2 separate regions of the Homo sapiens genome follow, and region 2 is linked to region 1. Evidence: fine-mapped expression QTL. Tissue or cell type: whole blood. Region 1 holds a variant in brackets; the other region holds the start of a gene. All regions are shown on one strand. Distances are between the middles of the regions.

The links. PIP is the estimated chance that this variant, and not a neighbour inherited with it, causes the effect.
Region 2: it holds the start of SCARA5, and the variant in region 1 is fine-mapped to the expression of SCARA5 in whole blood (TOPMed, PIP above 0.99). The same link has a PIP of 0.9 or more in blood mononuclear cells.

What each region holds. Positions count from the first base shown.
Region 1 is chr8:27,888,806-27,891,491 of GRCh38, forward strand. The region is part of intron 7 of SCARA5 (scavenger receptor class A member 5); the gene reads right to left. Among named protein-coding and RNA genes, the nearest start is that of MIR4287, 4.0 kb to the left of the region's middle. The variant G/A (reference allele first, on the strand shown) is at 1,402.
Region 2 is chr8:27,991,175-27,993,860 of GRCh38, forward strand. SCARA5 (scavenger receptor class A member 5) reads right to left here and starts at 1,499. Exons shown (of 9, transcript NM_173833.6): 1 at 1,083-1,499.

The DNA of each region.
Region 1 (2,686 bases):
AGAGCATCCCTGCCTGGTTTCACTGTGTAACCCTAGGAGAGGAAAGTGGTTTGAGGGAACACAGGGCAGGAGACTGGCTCCTGGCTGGGTAGCCTCCTTGCTGTCTCCCAGATCAAGGGGCTCATTGTTTCACCCCACAACTTTTCTGGAGTGTCAATTCCAGCCTCGGCTTGGAGCTCTCTGCCTCACTGCAGCCCCAGACCACAGCACCTGCCTCCCCATTCCTCAACCTGTTGTACTGAGCCTGCCCTTCACCCAGGCCCCACCGGGACCAACCCCATGGTCCTCAGCCACCCTCCTTCTACAGGCCCCAAATCTCTCAAAGCTTGAGCTTGTTCCCCAGTAAAGAGGGTACAGCTGAGGCACAGATGAGGCCAGGTCATGGAGAAGATCAAGGCATGGGTCTGGACAAGGAATCTTAGCATTTTCTCAGGATATCACTAGGAACAACTTCCATTAGCTTAGTTGTCGGCAACAGATGTCCCATTACTTAGTGCTTGGAGTGATTTTTCGGTAATTATGACATCATCTTTGGGCTTTTCCAATAATCACAAATGATGGTGAAGCATAGCATTTGCCAGCTGGTAGAGACTTGAAGATGACACAGTCCACACTCTTTGCATGACACGTGTGGGAGCAGAGGCCCAGAGAGGTGACGTGCCTTACCCAAGTCATCCCGTAGCTAGCAGAAGAGCTGGGGCCTGAACTTGAGACTTAGCCCTCGGGCCAGTTCTCCATCTACACCCTCCTTTCTTTCCCAGAATCCTTTCTTCAGAAGATCCCTGAGCATGGTCCACCAATTTGCATCACGACTTTGATGCAAGATGCCTTTTGATGGAGCAGTTACATGAAAAACAATTACTTTAACCCTGGAACTGCAATGCTTCTAACTAAAATTCATAGAAACAGCTTGGTTTCTCCTGAGTCTTATGGGAGAACCAAGAAGACAGGGTTGCCTTTGTGAAGCACAGCCATTGCTGAGTTTGCATTTGAAAATGAACATGTCAACGATTGCACGCAGGGGAAGGATAAACCAGCCTTGGCTTTTGAGGAAAGTGATAATATTTGTTGAAGTCCGGGGTGATTCTACTTCCCGTGCACAGATATGCAGCACTAAAAATGCATTATCTGTATTAATTCTTTATGTATATTTTATCAATGTCTGTGTTTATTTTTTCAATTGCATATTTATTTATCCATCAATTTGCAGGTATGGAATTACTACCACATTCCAGGATTGTGCTAGGCACTAAGGATGCAAGGATAAATAAGTATTGTCTTTGCCCTGGACTCACTCAAATGAACTAAGAGTTTAAAATAGATAAGAAAGACCACAGAATGTCAAAGCTGGCAGAGAACTCAGGGGCTCCAAAACCCTCAGTTAGAAATGAGGAAACTGAA[G/A]TTGACAGAGAAGTCACCAGCCATTACTGGGATGCCAGATCCTTCTCTTTTGAGACCACTTCTCTTTCTGATGCTGGCTACTTTCAGTAACAAACCATAATACAGAGAGAAGACAGTTTGAGGTTAAACCAGCAGGGCCCAGGGTGGGGCAGGCTGGCACTCCTAGAACCAGGTGGCACTGCTCTCCATCTGTGAAGGTTACAAGCACATATACTATTTTCCCTTGGAAATAGAGACCATGTCTTGTTTGTCCATGGCCCCTTAACACTTAACATGACACGTGGCTGGCTGAGGGCCCTAAATGCTGAATAGATGGCGTGGAGGGCAATGGGTAGATGTGTGCGTGACTTTATGAGCAAGCATGATTGGAATCCCCTTCTGAATGCCTCCGGATCCCTGGTTCCAGTCTCAACCTCCAGTGCCTGCATATTCAGAATGGGTGCTGTTCTCACCCACAGATCCCACCTGCTCAGGGTGGGAGGGGTGGGAAAGGTGCTGCCCCAGCACGGAGGCCACAGCTCGCTGTGCACACAGTGACTTGGGGCCTGACCCTGGATTTCATCGATTTGTGCTGCCCTTCTGAAGGTCATTCTATATCCCCGCCTTGCTAATTGATGTCTAAACATGTATCGATCTAGCCTTGGGGACACAGAGGTATTTCACCCTGTCTCTTCTTTGGATGCAAAATGCTGCGAGGCAGTTCCAGGTTGTCCCGGCAGGTGTGGGTCTGAAGCAAGCAGCGTGGTGGGTGAGGGGAGCCCAGGGCAGAGACTGGATGGGCAGGGCCAGTCCAGGCAAGCTACAAGTGCTCTCGCAAGTCTGAGAGGCATTTCAGACTTCCTCATTTCTTCACTGTCCCATGGGCCTCTCAGGGTTGTTGAGGGGATCAGTGACAAAGACTCTGTAGCCAGGTGCTCTCCTGAACCTCAACCTTCCCTCTATAAAGACACAAGACATGTCTGTATAGATGTGAACAGAACTACAATAGGTTTGTTTTTTTTTTGTTTTTTTTTTTAAATGGAGGAGTCTCGCTCTGTCATCCAGGCTGGAGTGCAGTGGCACAATCTCGGCTCACTGCAACCTTCACCTCCAGAGTTCAAGTGATTCTCCTGCCTCAGCCTCCTGAGTAGCTGGGACTATGGGTGTGCACCACCATGCCCGGCTACTTTTTGTATTTTTAGTAGAGACAGGGTCTCACCATGTTGGCCAGGATGGTCTCGATCTCTTGACCTCGTGATCTGCCCGCTTCGGCCTCCCAAAGTGCTGGGATTACAGGCGTGAGACA
Region 2 (2,686 bases), 100 kb after region 1:
AGCCTCAGGTACATGACCTCTAAGATGGGAAGGTGGGTAGCTGCTGGTCACCCAGGATCACTGTGAGCCTCCCGTGAGATAATGCATGTGGCATGACTTTATGAACAAGGTCACTCAGGGGAGCTGGTGGCAGTCTGATGAGAAAAAGCATCCCCCAGCATCTTCTGACTCTGCCTGGCAGCCAGGTAAGGGGGTGTCCAGGTTCCCAAGGCCTCCCTCCTACCTAGCCAGTCTCAGAAACAAAGCTGTTTGAAGTTCCCTTTGTAAAAGGCAATCGCGAATGCACTCTAGGGCTGATATCAGGACCCTGGCTCTTCAATCCTTCTCTGGAGATCAGAAGGACTCCATTAATTCCTCCTCTGAGTGGGTAGCACGAGCCTCATTTGCTGCTACCAAGTCAGTTTCTCTGGGTACCCGCATCTAACTCTGCAGGGTTTATGGCTTTTCTTTGGATTACCTCACTTTAAACTCATCAAAACCAAGGAAAAAAATCACATGAGTGTGGCCCTTCTCCAAAGAGAGAATCACTAAGGAGGTTTTAAATGTTTTCCTCCTCTAACTGTACTTAGTTAAGCTAAATCATAACCCAAAGCTGGACAGAGACAGATATTTTAGAAATAACCTCTCCCCACATATATCCCACCACTGGCACATGCACACGCACAGACATGCACACACACACACATGCACACACACACACATGCACACACACACATGCACACACACACATGCACACACACGAAGCCATGGAGAGGAGCTGTCACCTGAGCCATCTGCACCCTGAGTAGGCTCTTGAGCTGTGACATGAGTCAGGTGGAGTAGCCACCAAGGCAATAGCTTCCCTCTGGCACCCCAAATGCAGGCTCACATTCTCTCCAGCCCAGGCAGTTGGATGAGGGCCCGGCAGATATCTGCGGGCCCAGCAGGCGGGGACCTTCCCACCTGGAGAAGGCACCTCCAGGCTCTAGGTCTGAAGTTTCCCAAACTCTGTACTCCTCTCCATCCAGTTCACTCCAGTCTCCTCCAGCTGTCTTTGAGACAGCATGCCCAGGAGATAGGACAAAATTAGTACCAAGACTCACCTGAGTGCCCCTGGCTGAGGCTGTAGAGCCTTGTCCCCTCAGATCTCAGCATTTGCCATGGTGGCCAGAGAGCTGGCTGCCACCACGCTGAGAGCCAGGCCGCCCCTCGGACCGCGTCCCCACAGCCAGCCAAATCCAGATGGAGTCATAGAAAGGGGCTGCAGGGGCGCCCAGGGACGAGTCTCAGAGCAGGACCACAGGGGCCACTTCTGCAGGAGGACCAGGTCAAGATGCAACCTGTGGCAGAGTGGGGGTCTGGGCCTGGGGGACCCAGAATGGGGGGTGTGCGCCTGGGACTCCCTGTCCTTGGTGCCTGGTCCTGGGTAGCGATCAGGAGATGTTCTGAGGAGGCACCGGCAGCTCCTCTAGGTACTGCCTGAGATGCGAACTGCAGCTGCTCTCGCCGCCAGTCCGTATAAAATAAAGTTCTTGGAGCAGTTGCGGAGGCTTCTGCAATGGGGTCTGGAATACGGCCCCCCTCCTGCGGCCAATCGTGGCATTACAGCCCCGTGTGGGAACGCCCGCTGGGCCCAGAGCAGCGCGGTCGGCCTTGGCCTTGGGACTCCAACACCCCAGTCTAAAGGTCCTGCTCAAAATACTTTTTGGAAGACTTCTGGGGGAGTGGCAGCTAGACCTGGCTTATGAGCCACGCAAGAAAACCAGTCTTGTAAATTTATTTATAGCACAGAATTGGCATGGCTCAATTCATTCACCAAGCTTGGCACAGAGTTACTTCATGTATTTTCCTGGAGTCACATTCATCCTCAGTGGACACGGATTGGCCACACTGGGGGTAGTCAGGAAAATGCCCCAGGGGGTTCCACGGAACTCAGCAGCAGAATCAGCGTTTCTGGCTCATTAACGCTGCACAGGGGCTGGGGGGTGCAGGATGAAGACTAGCTGGCTGTCCATAGCAATTCAGTATGGGAGGGGGACCCAGGCACGAATAATCCTAAACCTGAGCATGATTGCTTACGTTTGAAAAAGGACATCTAGGCCGGGTGCAGTGACTCACACCTGTGGTCCCAGCACTTTGGGAGGCTGAGGTGGGAGGATTGCTTGAGCCCACCCACAAGTTCAAGACCAGCCTGGGCAACATAGTGAGACCCCATCTCTAAAAAAAAAAAAAATCTCTTTAAAGGCAATCTAACCATATGTGAAGGGAGCTGCTAAATTCAGATTGAGGTGGTAGTATCAGGGGCATCAGAGAAATCACCATAATTGTCCAAGCCAGGGTGGCAGAGTTAGGCTATGCAGATGGCTTCCAGAGGACAGCACCCAGAGGTAACATTCATGAATGCATTCCTGTTTGTTGGTGAAAAGTTCAGCCTCAAGACTCCAGGGTCAGGCTTCGTACATGAAAAGTGTTTGCCAAGACTCAGCTGTGTCACTGCAGCTGCCCGCCCACAGCTGAGTCAGAAACGCCGTCCTCATTCTCAGTGACTGCCCTGCCTGACTGCCTAGGAAGCAGCTCCAACATCAAACTCCATTTTACAGAAAGAACAAATGATAATTGTATCATTATGGTAATAATCCCAGGGAGCGGAGGAGGAGAAGGAAAAGAAGACAACACTTTATAGCATATACCATGTGTTTCTTATATA